Linked DNA regions of Homo sapiens: region 2 is linked to region 1. The links come from fine-mapping of genetic effects on gene expression. A gene starts in region 1. The other region holds a variant in brackets. All regions are shown on one strand. Distances are from middle to middle.

Region 1 (5,378 bases):
AATTTTCAACTTATAGTAGCACTCACTGGCCTGGAATTGATAAAAACTGAAGGCTGTTTTTCACTATAGTTAATTCTAACCTATAAACTGGAGCAGTTCCATGTAGGAATTTGTTAAAACCTATTGTGTATGAATTACAGACTCCTCTGACCATCCGAGTGTTCTTTTTCAGTTTTTTTTTTTTTTTCCTATGACCTAAAATCCCCTCAGACTTAAACCTTTAGTGAACTACTCAGTAAATGGCTTTACTAGTAAGTGTTCCCTTGCCTGGTATGTTTATTATTTTTTAACTTCAGTGTTTTATTCTTCGGCAGTAAGCAGTTGGATATAAGTTGGGGGTATAAATTTGGGACTCTGGCATATAGATGTTATTAAAAGTGATGAGACTGGATATCAACAAGGGAATGAGTGTAGATAAAGAAGAGAGCCAAAGACAAAGACTTGGGGCATTCCAACATTAAAAGTTTGGAGAGAAGAGAAAGCACCTCATAGAGGAGACACTGGAGATGTAAAGGAAAACTGAGTGATGTCCTTGAAGCCAAGTGATAAACTTTATCCAAGAGAAGAAAATGAACTGTCCAGTGCTGCTGATAGATAACTTTATATTGCCAGCTGTAAAATGTACTTTCAATTAGCCATTTCAAATTTGTTTACCAAAGCAATGATTTTGTTGGCTAGTTTTCTAAACTTCAGTAACTTTTCAGTGACTTGTAGGTTTTCATTGCATATACAGCTGAATTTTTTTTTTTTTTTAAACAGGGTCTTGCTGCCACCCAGGCTTGTATAGTGGTGCGATCCTAGCTCCTGCAACCTTGAACTTCTGGGCTCAAACAGTCCTCCACCTCAGCCTCCCAAGTAGCTGGGGCTACATGGCGCATGCCACCACACCTGGCTAATTTTTTTTTTACATTTGTAGAGGGAGGCCTTGCCATGTAGCCCAGGTTGGTTTCAAACTCCTGGGCTCAAGGGATCCTCTCACCTCAGCCTCCTAGAGTGTTGGTATTACAGGTGTGAACCACCATGCCTGGCCCAAAAGTTGTTTTTTTTTTTTTTAAGTTATTTTCTGTAATGCATTTTCTGTGAATTTATTGTCTTAAAAATTGGCAAATATGGCCATTTTGACATATTTGCCAAATATGAGCATATGGCAACTATGCTCTTAATTTGTTAAGTCACCAACTGTTGGTGGTAACTGTTGAAATAACAAGAGCAAAGTTATCACCAATCTACGGGATCCTTACACTACTGATATTTTCAATAATGCACCGTAGTCAGACATTGTAGACTTAACCTCTGAGCTGCTCACAAAATTACTAAATCATTCTGAAATACGTAACTGCAAATTCTGGGCTTTAAAGTCTCTAGTTAAATGGGTGATTTTGAAAATTGGTGGCTGTTCAGACATTTTCAAATGAGAATAGAATGCATTTGTTTCAGACTGATAAACTGCAGAAGGTTAGATAACACCAAACACATTTGAGTTTCTCCTAAGAAAATGACTTGGGCCTCCAGATTACATCTCATTTTTTTTTTTTTTACCCTATCAAGTTTGTTTTTCCATATGAAATGTCTTTCCCAACTACACCTGCCCTTGGAGACTGTGAATAACAGACTTAAAGGAAGTATCCTTTCCAGATGAGCTGAAGAATGTCATCCTCTTAAAAGAATGAACAGCTGGTCATGTAGAAATTCTCTGGAATGCTCACTTGTCCTACAAAGGCAGGGGAGCAGAAAACATGTAGTTTTTTTGTTATTGGTATACATAATTGTAAATCTTCGAGATAATTTTACTAGAAGTCCACATAATTTTAATAATTGCCTTTCTCCTGAAAAGATTGCTAATAAATTAACAATGTGAAGGCTAGAAAGCTGGCCAAGCATAATCCGGTGGGACTCAGGATTGCTGGCTGGATTGTCCCGTTTGATCAGACATTGTTTCTTAGATGAATATTCAGGACGCCCTCGTGTATAAAAGTTGTCCTTTGTTCTGACTACCTTGGTATTAAGTTCGAATTTCTTACCATGACACACAAAGGATTCGATTCTTGCTTAGCTCTCTAAGCTCCTCTCACTTTCTCTTCCCCTCTTGAATTCTTTGCTCTTGCCACACAACTAGCAGATGAACTAATCTATCTGTTCCAACGTGGGCACAGTAGCAGCCGTAACTCTTACCTTGGCCCACTCTGACTTGTCCAGCCCTGGTTGAATTCTTCGTATCCCCGTGAGGGTCCGCACGTAGTTGGGGCTGTTTACTAAACGGATGAACTTCCCTACCGGGAGGCTAGGTCTCGGTTATGCCTTACTTCCCAGGAAGCGGCTTCTATAGGCATTGTTTAAATGTAGGAGTAGGAGGGAGCTGGGGGTATTGCATTCCCCAGGTCACAGATAAATGAGATTCCAAAACCAAGATCTGGCTAGGCCTTGGAAAGAGGGACCTGCGAGGCCGACCAGACGTTTGGAACTGCGCCTTGCAGTGTGGGATCTCAGCACCGGATATTACCCCGGTTTGTAGAGAGTTGAGTTACTGTTTTAAGAGACGTTGCAAACCGTACGGGTCAAGAAGAAAGCCGAAGACGGGTTAGCGCCTGCGGTCGGGGTCGAGAAAAGCAGGCGAGATGCGACCTGACGTGGGTCCGCCTCTCTCCACCCGTGGCAAGCCCGACAGTCGCACTATTGCTTTAACAATCGCCCTCTTTCCAAGAAGAGCTACTTAGTGACCGTGAGCGAATATGCGTGGGAAGACACGATGTCCTCTCGGCCTCTGTGCGCTCAGTTGTTTACCTAGGCGTCCGGGGGAGGCACACTCGCGGGACTCGCGGGACTCGGCCCCGGCCTCCCAGCTCGCCCAGGACACGACGCTGGTTCTGCGGGCTCTCGGAGCCCAGCGCGAATCCCCCGGGCTAATTCCCAAGAACCGAGAGGCAGCACTGCCTGGAGGCTGCCCCCGCCTCCGCGCCCCCGTCCTCACTTTCTGAGGCTGTTAGCAGAGAGTCCCGCGGGCCGGGGAGAAGCGGGACGCGGGGGATGGCCTCGCAGCGCCCTGTGAGCGTCGGCAGTAGTCAGGCAGCCAGGGCTCCTTGGGCGATCGCCCTGGGTAGAGGAGAGGAGTTTCCGGGGCTCGGGTCCGGGTCGCCTTCCAGGGGAACGAGCGCGGAAGCAAGTGGGCGGCGAGAGGCGGAGCAAGAGACGCTGGAGGGCGTGGACGCAGCGGGCTTTGGAAAGGCCCCAAGTTAATGAGGCGTGCGCCGGCTGCCGAGCGCCTCTTGGAGCTGGGCTTTCCCCCGCGGTGCGGGCGCCAGGAGCCGCCTTTTCCGCTGGGTGTCACTCGGGGGTGGGGAAGATGGCCCATTCAAAAGCGCCGCGAGGGGGCCCGGCCAGTGCCCTTCAGTGAGCGCTCGCAAGAGGACGGCAGAGGCCCGGCAGCTCGGAGCTCCGGGACCTTGTGGCGCATCAGGACGCGGCTGTCCCTCTGCCGGGACCCAGAGCCGCCGCCGCCGCTCTGCCTCCTGCGTGTTAGCCTCCTCTGCGCGCTCCGGGCAGGCGGCCGTGGGAGCCGCTGGGGCGAGGACGGCGCGAGGCTGCTGCTGCTGCCCCCGGCCCGCGCGGCTGGAAACGGAGAGGCCGAGCCAAGCGGCGGCCCCTCTTATGCTGGGAGGATGCTGGAGAGTAGCGGCTGCAAAGCGCTGAAGGAGGGCGTGCTGGAGAAGCGCAGCGACGGGTTGTTGCAGCTCTGGAAGAAAAAGTGTTGCATCCTCACCGAGGAAGGGCTGCTGCTTATCCCGCCCAAGCAGCTGCAACACCAGCAGCAGCAGCAGCAACAGCAGCAGCAGCAGCAGCAACAACAGCCCGGGCAGGGGCCGGCCGAGCCGTCCCAACCCAGTGGCCCCGCTGTCGCCAGCCTCGAGCCGCCGGTCAAGCTCAAGGAACTGCACTTCTCCAACATGAAGACCGTGGACTGTGTGGAGCGCAAGGGCAAGTACATGTACTTCACTGTGGTGATGGCAGAGGGCAAGGAGATCGACTTTCGGTGCCCGCAAGACCAGGGCTGGAACGCCGAGATCACGCTGCAGATGGTGCAGTACAAGAATCGTCAGGCCATCCTGGCGGTCAAATCCACGCGGCAGAAGCAGCAGCACCTGGTCCAGCAGCAGCCCCCCTCGCAGCCGCAGCCGCAGCCGCAGCTCCAGCCCCAACCCCAGCCTCAGCCTCAGCCGCAACCCCAGCCCCAATCACAACCCCAGCCTCAGCCCCAACCCAAGCCTCAGCCCCAGCAGCTCCACCCGTATCCGCATCCACATCCACATCCACACTCTCATCCTCACTCGCACCCACACCCTCACCCGCACCCGCATCCGCACCAAATACCGCACCCACACCCACAGCCGCACTCGCAGCCGCACGGGCACCGGCTTCTCCGCAGCACCTCCAACTCTGCCTGAAAGGGGCAGCTCCCGGGCAAGACAAGGTAAGGTCCCGGCACTCGCGCTCCCGAGGAGTGGGTCTCGGGGGTAGTGAGTTGGGAGGAGTAGGAAGCTTGTTCACAGGTTCGGCTCCTGTATGGAGAAATCAAAACTCATACCAAGTTTCTGGGGCAATGGAAGAAACAGAAACAAGCTGGGGCCAGGAGAGCTGGGCAGAGAGGGGAGGCTGGGGAGATCCGGGCCAGGCAGGGGGCCTCGCGGACCGCGCCCGCGCCCGCGCCCATCACGACCGTCCTTGTCCCGTGGTGCGTCCCCCAGCCCCACTTGACTATATGTTTGGGCAGTTGAGGGAAACACCACGGTGTCTTTCTGAGCCCGCTTTGTCAGGCGGACTGGCCCGAACAGAACTGGTCTCGGAGGGTTCTTAGCCACCTACTTCACTCGGTGTCATTTCTTTCCAGGTTTTGAGGACTTGAGGAAGTGGGACGAGCACATTTCTATTGTCTTCACTTGGATCAAAAGCAAAACAGTCTCTCCGCCCCGCACCAGATCAAGTAGTTTGGACATCACCCTACTGAAAACTTGCGATTCTTCTTAGTTTTCTGCATACTTTTCATCACGATGCAGGAAACGATTTCGAGTCAAGAAGACTTTTATTTATGAACCTTTGAAAGGATCGTCTTGTATGGTGAATTTTCTAGGAGCGATGATGTACTGTAATTTTATTTTAATGTATTTTGATTTATGATTATTTATTAGTTTTTTTTTAAATGCTTGTTCTAAGACATTTCTGAATGTAGACCATTTTCCAAAAAGGAAACTTTATTTTCAAAAACCTAATCCGTAGTAATTCCTAATCTTGGAGAATAAAAAAGGGCGGTGGAGGGGAAAACATTAAGAATTTATTCATTATTTCTCGAGTACTTTCAGAAAGTCTGACACTTTCATTGTTGTGCC
Region 2 (5,378 bases), 370 kb after region 1:
CTGAGCTCTGCAGCTCCACAGTGATGAGAAGGCCTCTTTCATCTGGAATGCTGCATCCTGTTTCACTGATTCTTTGGCAGAGCTACAAACCTTTTTTCTCCAGAATAGGACTCACCGCCTACTCAATCTGCTGAAGGGAGGCACTTTATCCTAGAAAAGCAGAAACAAAGTATGGTGAGAAGCAGCCTGATGTGTAATCCTTAACCGAGGGGATCTGTAAACACCTTTCTAAACTAAATTATGCAGAGTTTCTGTGAGATTTCTGTAGATCAGCATCAGGGTCTGGGGGCCCCTACAGGATGGTTGAAATGGAAATGAGCCCCGATCCGTCTTTTGGGGTCAAAGGGGTCATCCTGTCAGCTGAACTCCTTCCTCTTCACTTTTCACTGGTAGAATTTCAGAAAACTAAAAATTGTAGATAATAAAAAGGTTTAAAAGTAGCAATAAAACAATAAAAAAGAACAGTTAAATAAAGATAAAATGATACAAGAAACTAGGTTACATAAATGAACCCAACCCCTCCCTGCCACCAAAAAAAAAAAAAAAAAAAAAAAAAAAAGCAGAAGGCAGCAAGCAAACCATGAGGTAAGAACAACTAAGATAAAGGAAAATCTGAAACTAAAGGTCAGAGAGAATAAAAGAATAATCCAAACAAGCTAAAGTGATAGAAAAGAGAGTAAACAATGATTTCAAAGTCCAGGAGGTTAACTAGTCAATATTGACTAAATTAAAAATCAGTAGCACAAGTTCCAAAGATCAACTGAGAGAGTCTCTTTAGCTAAGGCCCAAAAGCCGCAAATAAGTTTTTTCTTCTGTGGCCTGGGATCCACGGGCAGCTGTCCCCTCAGCAGGTTAGGGGCCTGACTTTCACTCCGCACCTCTTCTCTCTGATTCTGGTATCTTCTCTCCTGGGTTCAGTTGCAGACAGGCTCCTGAGTCTCTACCACAGGAATGTCTGTGCTAGCCATCTTTCTCAGCTGTGACTCTACCCTCTGGCTGTTACTGATAGAGGAGAGGGAAGCACTTGGCCCAAGTTGGATCAATCAGAGTCTCTTTTTTGAAATCTGGATTTGTTATCAAGACTCACTCATTTAGGGATGGCCTCTTTAATCATAATATTAAATAATTAATATTTGTTGAAGATTTATGTGGTGAACATTGATCTTTATATGTGTTTTCCAACTAAATTTTTAAGAACCTTATGAAATCAGTATTATTATTGAAGAGGAAACTGAGGCCCAAGAGGTTAAATGACTTTCCCAGTGTCACACAGCCTGTAGATGGTAGAATTAGGATTTAAACTCACCTCTGTCTGACTCTGGAGCCTGTTCTTAGCCTCATGTAATAGTGCCTCTTTTGAAGAAAGGAGATATAAACTTGGAAACTGTGGGATCACTGTCTTTTGTCCACCACGTGAACAGAGAGCAAAGAATGAATTGACGTTTAAATATATAGAGGAGCTGCAATGGACTGAATGTTTATGTCCTCCTAAAATTCATATGTTAAAATCGTAACCTCAAGATGATGTTATTTGAAGGTGGGGCCTCTGGGATATGATTATGTCATTACAGTGGAGCCCTCCCTAATGGGATAAGTGCCCTTATAAAAGGGACCCCAGAGAAACCCCTTGTCCCTTACCCCATGTGAAATTACAGCTATCTATGAAAAAGGGAGTGCTCACCAGACATCAAATCTGCAATGCCTTGACCTGGGATTCTTAACCTCCAGAACTGTGAGAAATAAATTACTGTTGTTTATAAGCCACCCAGTCTGTGGTATTTTGTCATAGCAGCCTGAATGGACTAAGATAGCAATCAAGATGAGAAAGGGAAATTCCTAAGCTTCTCCTTTGAGTTTGGGCTCCGTTTCTACTACCACGCATTGTGAGCCACCCCTGCTTTTCCATAATATATTCCTTCCCACATTTTTTTTTTTTTTTGAGATGGAGTTTTGCTCTTGTTGCCCAGGCTGGAGTGCAATGACATGATCTTGGCTCACTGCAACCTCTGACTCCTGGGTTCAAGCGATTCTCCTGCCTCAGCCTCGCAAGTAGCTGAGATTACAGGCATGTGTCACCATGCCTGGCTAATTTTGTATTTTTAACAGAGACAGGCTTTGTGCATGTTGGTCAAGCTGATCTCAAACTCCCGACCTCAGGTGATCCACCCGCCTCAGCCTCCCAAAGTGCTGGGAATACAGGCATAAGCCACCACACCTGGTATTTCCCCTTTTTGTTTTAAACTAATTCAGTTATATTTCTGGAACTTGCAACCACGAATCCTAACTAGTATTGATGTGAGTTATGGAGGACCTCAAAGCTCCAAGCTTCCCTTATAAGCCAGGCTTCTTTTGATTGCTAAAAAATAGTGGCCTCTTGGATTTGGCTCTCGATCTTTTTTCTCTGCTACCCACTTTCTAAACTGTAGCTTCTTTGAGTACAAGGATAATTAATAGGTCTTTTTTGTGCTCCTAAAACACTAGATGTTTTGCAAATGCTAGGTCTCAATAAATTCTTGTTTAGATAAGTTAATTCATATGATTATGTATTTCCTTACACAAACGTGACACCTTCCTAAAGTAAACTTGGGAATGATTAAAAGGCTATCTTTCTAGAATGAAAAGGTCACATGTTACATGATTTTATTT[A/G]TATAAAATATCCAGAATAGGTACATCTATAGAGACTGAAAACAAACATTTGCCAGGGACTGGAGAGAGGGGAGAATGGAGGAACTGCACAATGGGTCCAGGGTTGTATTTCGAGGTAACGAAGATGTTTTGCAACTATATAGAGGTCATGATTATACAACACGTGAATGTAATAAATCGGTCTGAATTGTTCAGTTTATAATGGTTGATTTTTGTTATGTGAATTTCATCTCAATTATAAAAATATTAACAAATTTCTATTTTCTGAAAAAAAAGTTACCTTCCATGTAGGTGGTAATCATCTGGGCTTGAGCTTATTGGTTTGAGGATGGTAGGTCAATTCTGGGCATGGGAGCAGGGCACTCCCTGACCATTGTCATGTTACAATGATTCCTTCATCTGAAATATAGGAGTCAGAGAACTCTTCACAAGAAGAGCATGGCACAGCAAGGCTTACTTTGTTCTATTCCCACAAGATAATCTATGTGAATTATAACCAAGGATTCGAAGAGAATGAGGCTGTTCTTACAGGATTCGTGAAGTCTCTAGAAGTTTTATGGGTTTGCTATTTTGTAATATCTCTATTGGCTAGTCAAAGCACACCTCATAGTTCCCTAAGTGGGAAAGGAAATATACATGTTTTTGTCACCACTGGAAATCATCCGAGATATAAAATGGGAGGTAAGTTGACGTCAAGGAAGGATCCAATTGTGTGTTCAATGCTTGAAAATGGCAATCTTCTGTCTATTGGCCCTTCTAGGATGAAGATAGCCCGAAAACTTGCCTGGAAGTTTAACAACAACAGAGGAGAGCTCCTTTATCATCAAAAGCCAAGAAAGCAATGCAGGTGATGACTTAATGTCATCTTACATAAAATATAAAGAGACTTTCTAGGAAAACCCTACTTTTGGATGCTTGTCTCTTAGAGTTCTAAACTTTTCACCCATTTAATTATAATAGGAATTATTTATTACTTTTTGAAACTTATGTGGAAAAAGGACCATCCCTGATTTGGGGACCAAAATTCTCCTACAGTTATTCCCTTGTTAGTGTTCTTGGAAATTCCTTATTTACAAAGTTCAGGTGGCTTCTAATTTCTGGCCAAGCTCAGATTTATGAAAGAAAATAATCAAGATGAAGCATAGATTCTTAGAAATAGAAAGCATGCAACTTCCTTCTTTTTGGGAAAGGATCCAGAAAATGAGGTTCAGAGAGGTTGACAGGCTTTTGCTGGAGCAGAAGAGAAATAATGGCCAGAAATGTCCACTTTGTGGGTCTTGATGCCACAATGCCCTAGTAGATCATGGAGCCCAGAACTTGGGTCTCTTGGTACTAGATTTTTTTTGCCTGTTTTAATTGGGAGGAAATGAAAATATTTGAGAGGCTTAATGTCATCTTTACTATTTTAAAAAGCACAGTTTTGTGCCCACAATTCAACAATATTCATCAGATCATAGACCCAAGGAGCTTTGAAATCGTTTCAGTGTTCACCCTGCCCAATGCTTTGTCTGTAATATCACTTCTCACATGCTGTTTCTTCTAAGAGGTTGTCTGGTCTCTGCTTTAACCTTTGGAGGGACAGGAAACTCATCACCTCTTGAAGTAACACATTTTATTTGCATGTGTTTGTGTTTATATTCTCTCTCTCTTTGTTTCTGTTTCTCTCTATAGAGTGCCTATATTTCATAGTCTGCTTATGCACATATTTCATAGTCTGCTTTTTTGCAATTGACATCCCACACATACTTTTCATATTGATACAAAGTCTTAATATGGTTGATATGGTTTGGCTTTGTCCCCACCCCAAATCTCATCTTGTGGGAGGAACCCAGTAGGGGGTAATTGAATCCTGGGAGCAGGTCTTTCCTGTGCTATTCTTGTGATAGTGAATAAGTCTCATGAGATCTGATGGTTTTAAAAAGGGGAGTTTTTCTGCAGAAGCCTTCTTCTCTTGCTTGCCATCATGTGAGACATGCCTTTCACCTTCTGCCATGATTGTGAGGCTTTCTCAGCCACGTGGAACTGTGAGTTCTCCATTAAACCTCTTTCCTTTGTAAATTGCCCAGGCTTGGGTATGTCTGTATTAGCAGTGTGAAAATGGACGAATACAGTGGTAATTGCAAGTGGCTTCATATACGATATAATTTCCCTAATAAAAATTTATGCAAACATGACTTAAAAGTTTTTACTATTATAAGTAGAATTCAATACTATTTTGGTTTGGGAAAGTTTGGTTATTAGATCATAAAGAATTTAAGATTTAACTTTTACTCTTTGGCTTTAAATGTATACTCCAGAGTAACATTGAATAAATCAAATCTGTCTTCCACCAGACAGTTCTTTTCAGTGTTTTTAAAAAAGCTATCATGTTCCTCTTAAAATGTGTCTCTTCCAAGGTAAACATCCTCAGCTCTTTCCATCATTCCTTACAAGTTGTGGTTTCCAGACCCTTCACAAGATTGTTTGTTCTCCTCTGGATGGGCTCCAATTTGTCAAAGTTCTTTGTAAAATATGGTGCCAGAATTAATTACTGTAAGAACAATAACCGTAATAATAATAACCACCATTTATTGACTGCACACAATGTTCCAGGAACTGTGCTATAGACTTAGCTCTTTTAATCCTCACAAAACCCTCTAATATTGTATGTTATTATCTTTATATTTTTAGACAAGAAAACCAGTTTTAATACGTCAGCTGACTTATCCAAGGTCACACAGAAAGGAAGTGGC

Evidence for each region. PIP is the estimated chance that this variant, and not a neighbour inherited with it, causes the effect. A credible set is the group of variants that fine-mapping cannot tell apart.
Region 2: its variant is the best candidate, but not a certain one, in a credible set for the expression of PHLDA1 in testis (GTEx, PIP 0.57).

What each region holds. Positions count from the first base shown.
Region 1 is chr12:76,029,597-76,034,974 of GRCh38, reverse strand. PHLDA1 (pleckstrin homology like domain family A member 1) reads left to right here and starts at 3,199. Exons shown (of 2, transcript NM_007350.3): 1 at 3,199-4,465; 2 at 4,883-5,378. The coding sequence starts at 3,234. The coding sequence ends at 4,439. It overlaps PHLDA1-AS1 (PHLDA1 antisense RNA 1), which reads right to left and starts at 4,481. Exons shown (of 2, transcript NR_186034.1): 1 at 4,381-4,481; 2 at 3,597-4,064. It overlaps PHLDA1-DT (PHLDA1 divergent transcript), which reads right to left and starts at 3,162. Exons shown (of 2, transcript NR_185978.1): 1 at 2,173-3,162; 2 at 586-1,711. RefSeq lists an enhancer at 3,044-3,293 and a silencer at 3,514-3,663.
Region 2 is chr12:75,661,835-75,667,212 of GRCh38, reverse strand. It overlaps LOC105369844 (a long non-coding RNA gene), which reads left to right. Exons shown (of 16, transcript XR_007063375.1): 7 at 3,407-3,493. Among named protein-coding and RNA genes, the nearest start is that of KRR1, 150 kb to the right of the region's middle. The variant A/G (reference allele first, on the strand shown) is at 2,647.